2 separate regions of the Homo sapiens genome follow, and region 1 is linked to region 2. The links come from fine-mapping of genetic effects on plasma protein levels. A gene starts in region 2. The other region holds a variant in brackets. All regions are shown on one strand. Distances are from middle to middle. Region 1 overlaps DNAJA3 (DnaJ heat shock protein family (Hsp40) member A3). Region 2 holds the start of VASN (vasorin).

Evidence for each region. PIP is the posterior inclusion probability: the model's chance that the variant is causal. Protein levels are from antibody-based Olink assays in UK Biobank. Linkage for the fine-mapping came from a reference panel and not from the study's own genotypes, which makes the PIPs less certain.
Region 1: its variant is fine-mapped to the plasma level of the VASN protein (UK Biobank, PIP above 0.99).

What each region holds. Positions count from the first base shown.
Region 1 is chr16:4,428,603-4,437,282 of GRCh38, forward strand. DNAJA3 (DnaJ heat shock protein family (Hsp40) member A3) reads left to right here. Exons shown (of 12, transcript NM_005147.6): 2 at 5,782-5,915. Among named protein-coding and RNA genes, the nearest start is that of DNAJA3, 7.1 kb to the left of the region's middle. The variant C/T (reference allele first, on the strand shown) is at 7,823.
Region 2 is chr16:4,367,893-4,376,583 of GRCh38, forward strand. It overlaps VASN (vasorin), which reads left to right and starts at 3,956. Exons shown (of 2, transcript NM_138440.3): 1 at 3,956-4,101. All of the region lies in intron 9 of CORO7-PAM16 (CORO7-PAM16 readthrough), which reads right to left. All of the region lies in intron 9 of CORO7 (coronin 7), which reads right to left. RefSeq lists enhancers at 1,262-1,761, 3,338-4,163, 6,771-7,550, 7,644-8,425, 8,426-8,691.

The DNA.
Region 1 (8,680 bases), 61 kb after region 2:
GTGAAGCTGTGACTAAGGAACTGCGGTTAGCTGTCTTGTTCCCCAAGTGAGCTCATAACCTGCCATGGGCAAGTTTTATATCAGGTAGTGTACACAGGTGAGAGGTGGCATCCTTCAGGGTACGTGCTGTTTTCACAGATAGAGTCATCAACTGGTTGGGCGGGGTGGCTCACGACTGTAATTCCAGCGCTATGCTGGCGCTGAGGCAGGAGGATCACATGAGCCTAGCAGTTTGGGACCAGCCTGGGCAACATAGGCAGATCCCATCTCTACAAAAAGATTTTTTTTTTTTTTTTTTTTTTTTGAGACGGAGTCTCACTCTGTCGCCCAGGCTGGAGTGCAGTGGCACGATCTCGGCTCACTGCAAACTCCGCCTCCCGGGTTCAGGCCATTCTCCTGCCTCAGCCTCCCGAGTAGCTGGGACTACAGGCACCTGCAACCGCGCCCAGCTAATTTTTTGTATTTTTAGTAGAGATGGAGTTTCACTGTGTTAGCCAGGACGTCTCGATCTCCTGACCTCGTGATCCACCCGCCTCCGCCTCCCAAAGTGCTGGGATTACAGGTGTGAGCCACCGCGCCCGGCCAAGATTTTTTTTGTTTGTTTGTTTGAGACGGAGTCTTGCTCTGTAGCCAGGCTGGAGTGCAGTGGTGCGATCTCGGCTCACCATGATCTTGACTCACCGTGATCTCGGCTCACCGCATCCTCCGCTTCCTGGGTTCAAGTGATCCTCTTGCCTCAGTCTCCTGAGTAGCTGGGACTACAGGCACGTGCCACCACTCCCAGTTAATTTTTGTATTTTTAGCAGATACTGGATTTCACCATATTGGCCAGGATGGTCTCGATCTCTTTACCCATGATCTGTCCACCTCAGCCTCCTAAAGTGCTGGGATTACAGGTGTGAGTCACCGCGCCCGGCCTACAAAAAGATTTTTAAAAATTAGCTGACTGTGGCCGGACATGGTGGCTCACGCCTGTAATCCCAGCACTTTGGGAGGCCTATGCGGGCGGATCACCTGAAGTCAGGAGTTTGAGACCAGCCTGATCAACATGGAGAAACCCCGTCTCTACAAAAAATACAAAATTAGCCAGGCCTGGTGGCGCATGCCTGTAAACCCGGGTACTCGGGAGGCTGGGGCAGGAGAATTGCTTGAACGTGAAAGTCGGAGGTTGCCGTGAGCCGAGTTAGCGCCATTGCACTCCAGCCTGATCAACAAGAGCGAAACTGTGTCTCAAAAAAAAAAAAATTAGCCAACTATGGTGGCAACTGCCTGTACTCCCAGCTGCTTGGGAGGCTGAGGTGGGAGTTTCACTTGAGCCCAGAAGGTTGAGGCTGCAGTGAGCCATGATGATGCCACTGCACTCCAGCCTGGGCAACAGAGTATGACTCTTTCTCTACCAAAAAATTAATAAAGTCATCAACTGAGAAGCCATGTGGTGGCGAGCCTCTATAGTCCTAGCTACTCAGGAGGTTGAGGTGGGAGGATTGCTGGAGTCCAGGAATTTGAATTTGGCCTAGGCAACATAATGAGACCCCTGTCTCTTAAAAAAAAAAATTTTGAAAAGGTCATTAACTCAGCGTCCAAACACTAGTCTGTGATCTTGTCTCAAATCTAGTAGTAAGATGACATAACAACATTTTAGATGTGACTTTTCTTCCAAGCAGAAAGAAAGCAGTTGTTGGTGGCCAGGTATGGTGGCTCATGCCTGCAATCCCATTACTTTGGGAGGTGGGTTGATCGCCTGAGGTCAGGAGTTTGAGACCAGCCTGGCCAAGATGGCCAAAGCTTGTCTCTACTAAAAATAGAAAAAGTTGGTCAGGCGTGGTGGCGGGTTCCTGTAATCCCAGCTACTCGGGAGGCTGAGACAGGAGAATCGCTTGAACCCAGGAGGCAGAGGTTGCAGTGAGCCGAGATCGCGCCACTGCCCTCCAGCCTGGGCAACAAGAGCCAAACTCCCTGTCAAAAAAAAAAAAAAAGAAAGCAGTTGTTGGACAGTGGGTTGGCCATTCTTAGAACGACTTGGAGGCTTATTTTATTCTGGGTTGTTCTAAAAAGGACAGGACATTTACTGGTCATATGTGATAAAATAAATAGTCTATTAAATGAAATCTAATTATTGTTAATCATTGATGCCCTATGGATAATGTCAAAAGTCATCAGACTGGGGATGGTGGCTCATGCCTGTAACCCCAGCACTTTGGTAGGATGAGGCCGGCGGATCACTTGAGGTCAGGAGTTCGAGACCAGCCTGGCCAACATGGTGAAACTTCTTACCTACTAAAAATACAAAAATTAGCCAGGTGTGGTGGTGTGCGCCTATAGTCCTGGCTACTTGAGAGGCTAAAGCAGAAGAATCGCTCGAACCTGGGAGATGGAGGTTGCAGTGAACCGAGATCACACCACTGCACTCCAGCCTGGGTGACAGAGTGAGACTCTGTCTCAAAAAAAGAAAAAACAAAGCCATCAGTCTTGTAATTAAACGTGATTTGTCTTTATCCACATGCAGTTTTGTGCGTTACTATCTCTGTACTAACTCCTGTCCGTGTTCTCTGCCCGTAATGTTGAAGCCACAGCTGCCACAGGTCACTACCAGCCTCCGCCTTGTGGCATTGGAATGAGTGGTGAGAGAGAGGCTGGACTGGGCCGGGCAACCCCTTACTCCGAAATAAAAAGAGGGTTGAGTACAAGTTCAATAATAAGTCAGGTCTAGTGTTTTCTCAAGTCTGACTGAAGAAACACAAAGTGGTCTCCTGACCCCTACTACTTCCAGTGTGCTTTTTGTATCCCGAGGATATTGGGTGTGCCAAACACACGGATTTATTTCCTATTTCTAATTTTAAGTATCCTGACCATTCCTATCCATTCTCCTGTCTGATCATCCTTTACCTGGCCTCCTACTTGGATGTGCTCAACCAACCTCTGGTTGTGTTTTGTGCTGATTAACTTCGAGTAGTCTCCCAGGCTTCCTAGAGTTGTTTCTCTTTTTTTTTTTTCAGGTGGAGTCTTGCTCTGTCGCCCAGGCTGGAGTGCAATGGCGCGATCTTGGCTCACTGCAACCTCAGCCTCCCAGGTTCAAACAATTCTCATGCCTCAGCCTCCCAAGTAGCTGGGATTACAGGCGTGCACCACCATGACCGGCTAATTTTTGTATTTTTAGTAGAGACAAGATTTCACCATGTTGGCCAGCTTGGTCTCGAACTCCTGACCTCAAGTGATCCACCCGCCTCGGCCTCCCAAAGTGCTGGGATTACAATAGGCGTGAGCCACCTTGCCTGGCCTAGAGTTGTTTCTCATGCAAACCTAATGGGTTCTTTGTTTAACATTTGCAGTGGCTCCCTATTGCTCTTAGGATAAAATCCAGACTCCTTAGCATAGCTCTAAGGCCCTTCCTATTCCTAGGCCCCATTAATCGTTATCATCTCTAACCACCACTACCACCACTGCCATCTAGTTTAGTTATAGGTATAAATCTGTATGGATTCAAAGTCCTCTTTAGCCTATTTCTGTCTCTCTCTCTTTTTTTTCCATGTCATAAGTTTATTTACAAACATCTAGTATGTCATATAAGTTCAAGTCTTTGATCCATTTATTTATTTATTTTTAATAGAGACAGGGTCTCTGTGTTGCCCAGGCTGGTTTCGAACTCCTGGGCTCAAGCGATCCTCACGCCTCAGGTTCCCAAAGTGCTGGGATTACAGGCGAGAGCCACTGTGCCCAGGCTTATTTTTCTTTCTTTTTTTTTTTCTTTTTTTTTTCTGTGATGGAGTTTCACTCCTGTTGCCCAGGCTGGAGTGCAATGGCGCGATCTTGGCTCACTGCAACCTCTGCCCCCCAGGTTCAAGCGATTCTCTTGCTTCAGCCTCCTTACTAGCTGGGATTACAGGCATGTACCACCACATCCGGCTAATTTTGTATTTTTAGTAGAGATGGGGTTTCTCCATGTTGGTCAGGCTGGTCTCTAACTCCTGACCTCAGGTGATCCGCCCGCCTTGGCCTCCCAAAGTGCTGGGATTACAGGCAGGAGCCACCATACCCGGCCCGGCTTATTCACTTTTTAAACAGATTTCATCTATTAAAACACCTCCAGTCTGGGCGTGGTGGCACACGCCTGTAGTCCCAGTTACTTGGGAGGCTGAGGCAGGAGAGTCGCTTGAACCCAGCAGGCGGAGGTTGCAGTGAGCCAAAATCGCACCACTGCACGCCAGTCTGGGCAAGAAGAGCGAAACTCCGTCTCAAAAAACAAAGAAACAAAAAGCCTGCCGGGCACGGTGGCTCACGCCGGTAATCCCAGCACTTTGGGAGGTCGAGGCAGGCGGATCATGAGGTCAGGAGATCGAGACCATCCTGGCTAACACGGCGAAACCCCGTCTCTACTAAAAATATGAAAAAATTAGCCGAGTGTGGTGGCAGGCGCCCGTAGTCCCAGCTACTTGGGAGGCTGAGGCAGGAGAATGGCGTGAACCCGGGAAGTGGAGCTTGCAGTGAGCCAGGATGGCGCCACTGCACTCCAGCCTGGGCGACAGAGCGAGACTCCATCTCAAAAAACAAAAAACCTGCTCTTCCTATCTGTTAAGTGGATGAACTAAAACATCCTTGTTTCTTAAGCAGTTGGTGTCTTGCTATTAAAAAAGGTGCTGTGAATCCAGATCCAAAGTACAAAGTCATCCTAGTTAGTAACCGCCATTTGTTTTCCACTGAAAGTGGCAAATGCTTTCCTGGGCAGCTTAGCCAGTTTCTGCAGCTTAACAGCTGATGCCTAGAAGTTCTTCCCCGACCTTCTTAGATTGATTTGTCATTGGTTCTCAGCAGGGGACACTTTTACTTCCCAGGGGACATTTGGCAATGCCTGGAGACGGGGAGTTCTCTACTGGCATCTAGTGGGTGGAGACCTCCTGAGTTTCTGGTGAATGTCTGGAGTAGGGCTTGAACATCTGTGTTTTCATCAGTCTAATGATGCTGTTGGTCCAGGGAGCGCAGTCTTGAGAACTGCTCCTTAAGTAGATACCCAAGGCTGCAAGATAGAGGGAAAAGAATGTGGGGAGTTGTTAAGCATTAAATGTGACAGAAAAATATGAAAATATGAAAATACCTAGCAAATGGTAAGTGCTCATGTGGCATAAGAGGGGGGAGCTGAATCCCTTTTTAATCATCTCCCAGTCAGGAGTATTATTCCTTTAGTGGTTTACTGAGACCACTCCAGTAGTATAAGCGAGGAGAATCAGCCTCATCCAATACTCTGACATAGTTTAATATTAATTGAATACTGTGGCTTCCTTAGCCATTATTGAAGTGCATTAGGGAACAGCCCTAAAGCTGTAGCCTGTGTATTAGTCTGTTCTCATGCAGCTAATAAAGACATACCTAAGACTGGGTAAATTTTAAAGGAAAGAGGTTTATTTAACTCACAGTTCAGCACGGCTGGGGAGGCCTCAGCGATCGTGGCGGAAGGGGAAGCAAACACATCCTTCTTAACATGGCAGCAGGAAGAATGAGCAAAAGGGTGAGCCCCTCATAAAACTATCAGATCTCATGAGAACTTACTATCGCGAGACCAGCATGGAGGTAACCGCTCCTGTGATTCAGTTACCTCCCATCAGGTCCCTCCCATGACACGTGGGGATTATGGGAACTAAAATTCTAGTTGAGATCTGGGTGGGGACACAGCCAAACCTTATCAGTTTGTTTGTTCCTTCACAGATATAGCCTGGTGGGTCATGTACTCACAGTTTTCTTTTGTTGAGAACATTCCCAGAGTGATTTTCTTTGTTTTTTCCTTTTTAGGAACAAAACATAACCCTTTCATTTGTACTGCCTCCTTCCACACGAGTGCCCCTTTGGCCAAAGAAGATTATTATCAGATATTAGGAGTGCCTCGAAATGCCAGCCAGAAAGAGATCAAGAAAGCCTATTATCAGGTCTGTATGGAAGTCAGGTTTTGGTGACCAAATTGTAGTAGGAATGTTGTTGATCCCATGTGATCCTGATCAGTACAGCGTATGTGCCCATATGAATAGGTCTCATGAGCTGATAGTATAGAAGGGTGTGATAAAGCTGGACTTTGCTAGACTGTTTTTCGATGCACAATGCTGTAGAGGTTGGTGCTTCAGAAAAAAGAGGTGAGTCCAAACCAGAGATTTTAAGAAGTTTTTTTTTCTAGAGCTGTTTTCATAATTAAATTTAATCTGTATTTTCTGAATCAGTAGATATGCTAGTCTAAGTTTTAGGTAGTTATTTTTTGCATCCAGATAAAAGTTTAGAGGTTTAGAATTACTTCCTTTCCTTTCTTTTTTTTTTTTTTTTTTTTTTTTTTTTGAGATGGAGTCTCACTCCATTGCTGAGGCTGGAGTGCAGTGGCGCAATCTTGGCTCACTGCAACCTCTGCCTCCTGGGTTCAAGCAGTTCTCCTGTGTCCGCCTCCCAAGTAGCTGGGACTATAGGCACCTGCCACCACACCCGGCTAATTTTTTTTGTATTTTTAGTAGAGACGCGGTTTCACTTTGTTGGTCAGGCTGGTCTTAAACTCCTGACCTCAGGTGATCCACCTGCCTCAGCCTCCCAAAGTGCTGGGATTACAGGCGTGAGCCACCGCGCCTGGCCCTTTCTTAACCTGGAAAATGTGAAATTCCCATTGTATCCCAGGGTCTATTAGGGTAGTTAGGGTAGCTGAGTAAAGTTGTATACGAGATGTCTACACCACTGGTTCCTAGACCCTTGGTTTGCTCTGACCAACAAAATAAAATCAATATTGGAGGCACCATTGTAGGATTGACAGCTTTTTATAAGTGCACAGTTCACTGGAGTTGTGCACCTGTCACCACAGTCAACTTTAGGACATTTTCATTACCTCGAAAAGAAACTCTGTATTCATTAGCACTCCCCTTCCATTGTCCTCTCTCCCCGGTCCCTAGCAGCTGCTAATCTGCGTCCTGCCTCTTTGGATTTGCCTATTCTCAATATTCATATACAGGGAATCATACAATATGTATCCTTTTGTGTGTCTTGGCTTCTTTCATTCACATAATGTTTTCAGGGTTCATCTGTGTTATAGTTTGTGTCAATACTTCATCCCTTTTTATGGTCAAATAATCTGTTGCATGGATTAATCACATTTTGTTTATTCATCGTTTGATGGACATTTGGATATTTTCCACTTTTTGCTATCATGAACAGTGCTGCTATATAGACATTCATATGTAAGTTTTTGTGTAGACATGTTTTCAGTTCTCTTGGATATTTAGGAGTATAGTTGCTGAGTCATATGGTAACTGGATGTTTAACCTTTTGAGAAGCTGCCAGCCTTTTTCAAAGCAGCTGCACCATTTTACATTCCCACCAGCAGCATATGAGGGCCATGATTTCTCCACATCCCAGTGAACACTTAACTATTATCGTCTGTCTTTTTAATTACGACCCTAGTGAATAAGAAATGCTATCTCGTTAGAGTTTCGATTTGCTTTTTCCCTGATGACTAATGATGGTGAGCATCTTTCTTGTGCATGTTGGCTATTAGTATGTCTTTGGAGAAACGTGTGTTTGGATCCATTGCCCACTTTTAACTGGGTTGTCTTTTTTTTTTAATTGGGTTGTAATGGAATGAACAGAGGCATGGGGACAGGAAGCAGAGATCCTGGCCTGTGAAGAGCGAATGGCCTGTCTCTTCCTGAGCTCAAGAGTCAGGTGCCTGATCCAAGAGTGGGAAAAGATTGAAAAGATGGAGGCTGGGTTGGACTCACATGACAGTTGATTTGAGGCCCTTAGTAAGTCCCAGAGACATAATTTAAGAGAAAGACTTAATTTAGAGAACCATTCAGATTTTTAGGCA[C/T]GGAAGTAAAAAGATCAGGTAAAGCTGTAGCAATTACTGTATTTTATTTACCTACAAAAATAATTGAAACAGCAGAGACGTCTATTTATTCAGTCATTTTCTTCCCTTTTTAAAAATTTTTTCTTTTTTCAGACAGAGTCTCGCCGTGTGGCTCAGGCTGGAGTGCAGTGGTGCAGTCTTGGCTCACTGCAACCTCTGTCTCCTGGGCTCAAGCAATTCTCCTGCCTCAGCCTCCCGAGTACCTGTGTTTATAGGCGCGTGTGACCATACCTGGCTAATTTTTGTATTTTTAGTAGAGATGGGGTTTCGCCATGTTGGCCAGGCTGTTCTCAAACTCCTGACCTCTGGTGATCCACCCAGCTCAGCATCTCAAAGTGCTGGGATAACAGGCATGAGCCACTGCGCCCGGCCCCCTTTTTAAAAATTTGTTTTTCTTTTTTGTTCATTTACCTATTCTAAGCCATGCTGGGTGCTAAGGGCAAAGATACATCAGAATCAGTTCCTGCCCTCAAGTTAAGAGATGGATACATTAAAACAGATCATTATTATTATTATTTTGTGGGGCGGACAGAATCTCACTCCGTCACCTAGGCTGGAGTGCAGTGCCTCGATCTCTGCTCACTGCAACCTCCACCTCCCAGGTTCAAGTGATTCTCGTGCTTCAGCCTCCTGAGTAGCTGGGACCACAGGCATGTGCCACCACGCCTGACTAATTTTTTCTATTTTTGGTGGAGAGGGGTTTCGCTGTGTTGCCCAGGCTGGTGTTGAACTCCTGAGCTTAAGTGATCTGCCTGCCTTCACTTCCCAAAGTGTTGGGATTACAGGCGTGAGCCACTGCACCCAGCCGAGAGACAACTT
Region 2 (8,691 bases):
GTTTCAAGCAAAAGAGGCTAGGCCAGGCCTAGTGACTCATGTCTGTGATCCCAGCCAGCACTTTGGGAGGCTGAGGTGGGAGAATCACTTGAGCCCAGTAGGTCAACACTGTGACCAGCCTGGGCAACATCATGAGACCATGGCTCTTCAAAAAATTAAAAATTAAAAAATTAGCGAGGTATGCTGGCTCACGCCTGTAATCCCAGCACTTTGGGAGGCCGAGGTGGGTGGATCACTGGAGGTCAGCAGTTTGAGACCAGCCAGGCCAACATGATGAAACCCTGTCTCTACTAAAAATACAAAAATTGGCCAAGTGTGGTGGTGTGCATCTGTAATCCCAGCTAATTGGGAGGCTGAGGCAGGAGAACCACTTGAACCCGGCAGGTGGAGTTTGCAGTGAGCCGAGATGGCACCAATGCATTCCAGCCTGGGTGACAGAGTGAGACTCCATCTCAAAAAATAAAATTAAAAATTAGCCTGCTGTGGTAGTGCACACCTGTGGTCCAGCTACTCGGCTGGCTGAGGCAGGAGGGTCACTTGAGCCCAGGAGTTTGAGGCTGCAGTGAGTCAAGATCGCATCGCCAGCTGGGCATGGTGGCTCACATCTGTAATCCCAGCACTTTGGGAGGCCGATCACTTTGGGTCAGGAGTTTGAGACCAGCCTGGCCAACATGGTGAAAACTCGTCTCTACTAAAAATGCAAAAATGAGCTGAGCATGGTGGCGTGCACCTGGAATCCCAGCTACTCAGGAGGCTGAGGCAGGAGAATCACTTGAACCCGGGAGGCGGAGGTTGCAGTGGGCCAAGATTGCACCACTGCATTCCAGCCTTGGCAACAGAGTGAGACTCCATCTCAAAAAAAAAAAAAAAAAAAATCACATCAGCCTGGGTAACACAGCAAGACCCTATCTCAAAAAAATAAAAATAGAAAGAGGATAGGACCAGACTGGCACAGAGTAGGGATCACACTGGCTGCTGGGGGCACAGGCTGGGAGGAGTGGAAACAGGTGCCAGGACAGAAGCTGAGGGCAAGTAGGATAGGCAGGTCTCCTGTGGCCCCTCTGCTGCCCTTATGAGAGGTGGGAAACAGGCCTGGGGCCACCTCATGGCATCAGAGGCTCACCTGTGCGCTGAGCCAACTGCCTGAGGAGGCCTGGTGCTCAGCCTCCCTCACCCCCGTTCCATCGTCCCAGCCAGCCAGCCACTGACTCAGGAGCTGAGGCCGAGTGGGCAGGAAGTCAGGGAGGGCAGGGCTGGCTCCTCTGACAGGTCAGGCCAGTCTTCCTTGCCTCAGGCAGAGCCATCTGGACAACTCTGCCAGGCAGGGGCATCCTGTCTGCCGTGGCACGGGCCAAGAAATGGGGTCATGGCACCCAGCCCCAAAGGTTGGCCAAGTGTTGGCATGGGCCTGACCCCAGGCTGTGTGAAGAGAGCCAAGCTGGGTCTGGGTCTGGAACATGGTACATGAGCCCCAGCCAGGCAGAGGGCCAGAGGTGGTAAGAGGTATTGCCGGCACCTCTCCTGCTGGAATCTGGGCCTGCCACTGGGAAGGGCTCTGACCCTGACCCAGGTCCAGGGGTCTGTCCCAGGCATAAAGTTATAGAAGGTCTAAAGCCCAGATCTGCCCCCGCCCCTCAGCCAGGTCCCAGGAGCTAGAAGACAACCTCAGTACCAACTGGGAGGCACGAGCAGTTTCAGCCTCCGGATAAGCCCCGCCAGCTCTCCCAGGACTCCTGTGATTAGCACCGAGGGGAAGCACCAAGGGTGTGCTTGCTACAAGGAGCAGCTGCAAGGCTCCTCCTCTGTCCTCCCCTCCAGCCCATCCCTCCCGCTCAGGCCCCTTCCCACCAACCCAGACATTCTGCCATTGCGCCAGTTCAAAGCAGGCTGGGTCCCTTGGATCTGTCCCTATCACCCAGGCTGGAGAGTTAGTTAGGATCCTTTGACCCCCCTCCACCCCCACAGCCCCTAGCTCCCCCGCTGTGTGCAGACTGCTGGTAACCAGGTTCTAAAGGCGGGTGGCACCTTGAAACCATACAAGGCAATGTTGGATAAACTGAGAGGGGTCTCCTAAAAGCTTCCCTTGAGCCTCTGGGTAAGTGGGGACCTGTGTAAGGCCAGGGCACAGGATTGGGGCAGGGGGTGAACACCAGGCAGATGGGGTCTCTCCGTCTACAAGAACCTGCCACAGAGGTGAGAAGCTTCAAGGACATCAGGAGGTCCTGTTCCTTGAGGAAAGCCAGGCTGGAGGCTCTTGGAGCCCTCTTTACCCCTGACCCTGGGCATCTGTGGATGCTTCTGAGGGCTTCAGAGGACACAGGGCCAAGGGAAGAGGCAGGGAAACAGTCCGACAAGAGGCTGCACAGCACTGATTGGAAACTCAGATGGTTCTGGGGCCGGGCAGGAAACTCAAGTGAGTGGACAGCTTGGCAGGAGGCAGCAGGGAGTGGTGGGGACTGGGGTGACCCATGAGCCCACATTTTGGCAGAGGGAGCAACCGCCACTCAGCCCCAGCTGAGAGTTCCTGTTCAATGCAAGCTGGGAAGCCCCATTTTAATATGAAACCACCTGATTTTTCAATGTTAGCAGTGCCTTCAAAGTTGTAAAAACTCCCATAAAGCCTGCACTAAATGCACCCAAAGGCCAGCCCCAACCCAGGAACAGAGGTCCGCAAGCCATGCCCTAATCCATGTAGACCGAGAAACGTATGGGTTGTGGAGCCCTGCCAGCCCTGGAAAGGGGCCCTGTGGGGAGAGGGCCCTGTGGACGGGAGGTCCAGAAGGTGACTGTCCCAGCCAGGCCCTGCTTAGCCCTTGACGGCTAGACACAGAGGCCATCCTGCCTTCTGGAGATAACTGAGTCCTCCAGAGACTAGGAAACCCTCCAGCTGGTGTGGCCCAGCCTCCCAGGGATAAGCCTTCAGGCCCCCCAAAGACTAGAGCTAGCCCAGCCAAGGGCCTTGGCTACAGGCCGGGCTGGAGGGGGTGTGGGTGTCCCAAGGCTCTCCGGAAGTCAGGAGCTGAGCTGGGCCCCCAAAGGCTCTGAGGCATGACTGACCACAAACGCGGAGGGGGAGGAGGGCAGAGTGTTTTCCTGGAATCCTCCAAGGCAGGGGATTTTTCTGGACTAGTCCGGCCCCTGGCACCCGCCCCTCCTGCCCAATCAAGGGCCACTGTCAACTGCAGCCCAGGCCCCACCCACCGACGGTGACCACCCCTATGCCTCCACAGCTCAGGCTTGAAGCTGCCAGTAACTGTGGGGCCGTGGGCAGACCACCACTGCCCTCCCTGACACAGCCCCTTCATCTCATAATATGGTGGGGAAGAGAGTCCAGGGCTGCTCACAACTCTTAAGGCTGTCGTGGCTAAGAGGACCCTGAGCTCAGATTTGGCATTGGAGTTTATACTTAGGAGGCTCTTGAAAGGGCTTTGTGTGGGCTGCCAGGAGTTTTTTGAAATTGGGATTAGCTACCAACAATAACACATTGAGAGATTTCACCTAAAAATCTGGATTTCCAGTTTCTCTTCAAAAATCCAAAGCTCTAGCTGGCCCGGGCTGGTCATGAGGACTCAGCCCTTACCAGCCCCACTCCCGCCATCCTGCCTCTCCAGGGCCGCAGAGGCCCTGGGGTGGACTTCTGGCATTTGTCACCTGCCTGGTGCCTCATAGGCATCTGGGCTGTGACGCTTAGGATTCCTAAATAGTCTCTCGCTTTTTACACAAAAAGCAGAAACCTGCCCAGTGTCATCCGGCAAACCCACGACGGGCAAGGTCTCCCCGCGCAGGTCAGGTGGCCGCAGGGTGAGGGCCAGGGCAACCCGGCCCACGAGCCCCTCGGTGGGGAAGGGGCGTGTCTCCACGCGGCTCCGCCCCGGCCAATGGGGAGAGGCCCCGCCCCTGCCGCGGCGGGCCCGCCCCCCGGGACTCTTAAGGCGCGACCTGCCTCCAGCGAGCCGACTCCGGAGCCCGAGCCCGGGGCGGGTGGACGCGGACTCGAACGCAGTTGCTTCGGGACCCAGGACCCCCTCGGGCCCGACCCGCCAGGAAAGACTGAGGCCGCGGCCTGCCCCGCCCGGCTCCCTGCGCCGCCGCCGCCTCCCGGTGAGTTTCTGTGGGGCTGGGGGGCTGCGGGCGGGGAAGGGGGCGCCACGGCCAGGCTGTGCACACGCGCGGGGACCGCCGCCGCGCGCACACACGCACTCTCGGGCGGGACCGCGGCCCCAGCCCCACACGGTCACCTGGGCCGCCCGGCGGGCAGGCCCTGTACGCTCCCTCCCCCGCCGTCCTGGGGCGCCGACAGCCCCGCGGCCGGCCAGGGTGCGCGCCTGAGTGTGCGGTGAGCCCGCGAGGCTGCAAGCAGACAAAATAAACACCCCGTCCCATGCTTCCTCCTCCCACGGCTGGGCCTCCGGCATGACCAGTTTTATGAATCAAACCCCTTTGAGGGGGATAGCCAAGCCACAGGCTTGGGTCACTTTTCCCTCCTGGGGTCCGGCAGTAGGTGCTGCTGTGCAGAAGGGCTGCCCGGGGTCCTCTGGACCCTTGTCACTCAAAGCACAGCTGGGGGCTACAGATATGCAGCCCTAGGGAGGGGCGGGGAGTGGCTGGTGGGCGTCCGATGCCCATCCCTCCAGGTGGGGGATGGACCTGTACTGGCCAGGGCCCTTAGAGCTTCGGGTATCAGGCAGGGTGCCGGGTCTCTGCCTCTGCCAGGGAAGGGGCTTTGCTTGGGCTGCAAACCCAGTGGCCTGGAGCCAGCCTAGTCCTTTGTGTCCCTGGGCTGGCAGTGCTGGGGCCTGAGGACTGCTGAGGTCCCCTGTGGTCACTGGCAGGCCAGCCGATTGGTGCCAACCATTCTGCCTCTCCCCCATTCGTTAACGATTGCCACACCAGGGTCACTGACCGCCTCCCCTGCTGTGGCCCAGGGGTGGAGTGTGCAGGGTGGAAGGAAGAGGTCCTGGGGGTCTAGGTGTCCCCATGCCTGCCTTTTGCACCAAGGACAGGTGAGGCTCTGGAGAGAGGCAGCGGGACCTAGAGCCCCCTTCCCCAGGCTGAGAGCCTCCAGGGCTGGGGATTGGATAAAATCTCCAAGGTCCCTTCACACTAGACTGTACTTTGGGTGTTGAGGGCATAGAGGGGTGGCCGGGCTGGGACCTTCCAAGCAGGGTCCATTAGGGCCAGTCCAGGGGGCAGCAAAGTCCAGGATGGGCCCAGCTATTGACAAAAACCCAACAGAGCTGGGGCAGGCGGGTGGGGGATGGGGAGCAGTCCCCTGAGTTTACTCTCTTCTCCCAGGGGAGTTGGCCTGGAGCTTCTGTAAACAGAGTGTCAGAGGCAGGAAGAGGCTCTGGTGATGAGCAGCCCAGCTGGATCCCCTCCAGACCATTATCTAGCCTCCCCTGGGCCTGGGGAGGGAGGATGCGCACACACATGCCAGCCTGGGGGCCGGGCACTGCCTGTCCCCACCCCGCCCCTGTCTCCTGCACGTTGGAACAGCTGTCCTGCTACCTGTGGGTCCGGAGGGTCAGATGGGGATGGGGCTGGGGGCTGGGGTCCCAGGGCATTTGTCCAGATGGCACCTCTCTCTCCATATTCTGGGAATGGGAGAATGGGATTCAGCATAAGGAGCCTCTCAGACACTGCCCAGACCTGTGCTTACCCGAGGAAGGCCCCTCTGGCACGCAGCCCAGGGGCCAGGGAGATGGCAAGGGAGATGCCCCGGGCAGGAGATGGGTCCGCGGCTCCTAGCTCCCATTACTGTCACCCCCACTGACAGCCCCGGGGGAGCTGGGACAAGTCCCAAGTACAGAAAATTAAGTCCTTGCCTGGGCTTATAAGTGGGTCCCAACACAACACTGGGCAGCCTCTGGGAACAAGAAAGCAGGGCCCTGCTGAGCCCAGGAGGGAGCTCCCACCTCAGCAGGCCAGACAGCCAGTCCTGCCAGTGAGCAGAGGTGTGTAGAGGGGAGGCTGCCCACAGGGATGGCTATCCCTGACCACTGGCCAGCCCTGAGCTCATGGGAGGGCAGCAAGGCCACCTAACTCTGTTAGTGACCTCTCCTGGACCCCCCATCAGCTGCCCTTAGAGTCCCCTCCCTGGGCTGGGGAGCCCAAGGCTCTGTGCTGCCAAGAAAACCAGCTCCCCTCACTGCTGTGGAATTTGCGTGAGTTCTTGGAGAAGGGGGAGGGTGCACGTGTGTGTGTGTGTGTGTGTCTGCAGGAGCACTGCCCAGTGGGCGTGTGTCTGGCGTGGGCGTGTCTGTGTGCGCGTGACTGGAGCAGGGCTGTGTATTTGGGGGTGGGTGGGGGTGTTTGGGGGAGCCTGCTTGCACCAGGAGGGGCAGGGCCTCAGCCTCCTTCCTTTTATCGGTTTCCACATTCCAGAGTCAGCCGGATCGCTTTCCCTCCGCGCTGGGCCGCCGGCCTCCCCCGCTTTTCCTCATTCCAGCCTCCCTGGGTGTGAGGAGGCTGGAGGAGGCTCCCTCAGGCCACCTCGGTTTTGGGCAGGGGGTGGGGGCAGGCGAGGGGCCAGTTATTCTTCAGGGTTCGGGACGGCCCCCACCAGACTCTTCGTGGGGAATGCAATAAGGTTCTGACATTCCTCAGGGGCTGCCTGAGAGATTTAATTAAGGAGGGAGGAGGGAGCCGGCCTACACCGGGAAGGGGCTGGGGCGGCCGCTGGGGCCCCTGCTGGCCCTGGGCCCCGAGCCCGGCTGGGCATTGAGAGCAGTGCGGGGGCAGGGTTGTGGTTCAGTGGCCAGGTCCTGTTCTGCCTCCCTGAATCCATCCCGCCTGCCCATTGATCAGCTCACAGACCCCAGGGGCGCCATTTCTGCCACGGGTTGGCCAAGAACCCTGGGTGATTGTGGGGGGTTCGGCATGGGGAGCTTGAGAAGGGCAAGACCCCTTCCAGGGCCACTTCCTTCTCAGACCCCCAGGCCCAGGAAGCTTAGGGCTGGCGGCCTTCCTTGGTGACTAAGGTGTTCTTCTGGCAAGTTCAGGGTTAATTGCAGGTTAGGGCCTTACTAGATGGGTGCTTGCCCCTGGGTGGGGACAGGGCAGTGAGGAGGCCCCGTGTGAGGGCCCAGCCCTGGTGGCATCACACCTGCCGCGTGCCGAAAGTGGCATCTGGACTGGCCCATTTCTAGTTGGGCTGCAGCCACTGCACAGCTCCCAGGGCCACAGGTGTCCTCCCTGACAGGTTGCACCTCTTGTGACTACGATGGCACGTCCCACCGCCCCAGGGGCTCACTTGAGCTGGGGCCTGGCCTTAGTCACTGGTCTCCCTGCCCTGGGCTAACAGGTCTGGCAGCTGCCAAGTCACCCACGGTGCTACTGAAGGCACCCACCTGGGGCCGGGCCAGCCTCCTGGGTGGAGGGAGGAGGGAAGACCCTGTGCCTGCCCCTCTCCCAGCCCTGCCAGCTGGTCCACACCTGCTCCAGGATACAGAGCCTCCTCCCTGCACAGGAAGACGAGCTGACATCCTGACTGTCCCCTTTGCAACCCTCTGTCCTGGTGTTCTGAACCCTGGCTGTGCGGAGGACTCGCTCAAGGAGCTTCTCCAAAATACAGCTCTGCCTGGGTCTCACTCCTAGACATTCTTTTTGTTTTTGAGATGGAGTATTGCTCTGTCACCCAGGCTGGAGTGCAGTGGCGCAATATTGGCTCACTGCAAGCTCCGCCTCCCAGGTTCACACCATTCTCCTGCCTCAGCCTCCCAAGTAGCTGGGACTACAGGCGCCTGCCACCAGGCCTGGCTAATTTTTTTGTATTTTTAGTAGAGACGGGGTTTCACCATGTTAGCCAGGATGGTCTCGATCTCCTGACCTCGTGATCGTCCTACCTCGGCCTCCCAAAGTACTGGGATTACAGGCGTGAGCCACCATGCCCGGCAGAATTTCTTGTTTAATTGGCCTGGGGGTGGGGCCCCAGCATGGAGGTTTTTTTTAGAAAGCTTCCTGGATGATTCTGATGTGCAGCCCGGCGGGCAAAGCCCTGGCGTCACAGGTGGGAGACGGAAGCCCAGAGAGGGGAGCTTGCTTGGATGAGGTCACAAAGCGTGTGAGTGCCTGACTGAGCTCCTGGCTGTGGCATTATCTGTGGAATGAAGAGCGCCAGCTTGGGGTGGTGGATGGAGTAAGAAAGAGGCTGACACCCATGGGGACCCCCGCTCAATCACCAGCCAGGGGTCCCCGCGCCTATAGGGAGGGTCTACCTGCCGCAGTCCCTGAGGAACTCGAGGCCCAGCCCTCTCTGCCCCTTCTGTGAGGGCCCACGACCCCTGACCTCTCTGCCCTGCCCTTGGGACTGCTGTGTCCCAAGGAAGGGGAGACGGGGCGGACCCAGCCGGGCCCTGAGCCTCCTCGGACACGTCAGCGAAACTGGAGCCAGCCGTCCTGGCCGCCGGCACAGTCCCGCCTGCCTGGAGGGGTTGGCAGACTCCCGGGGCTGGGCTGCTGCCAGGCCTGACCGGCCACACAGAGCCTTGGCGGGCCAGCATGAGGAGCGGGGGCCCGGAGTCTCAGGGTCAGACCTGCAGCGCCTGTCCTGCACCCACGCTGAAGCATACGGCACAGGAGGGGCGTACTGGCCTCAGACTGTCTATCTGTCTGTCCAAGCCTGTCCCCTACTCAGCAGGCACACCGCCTGCCCCAGAATCAGTGAGATGTTCTCGCCAGGGGCTGATGTGG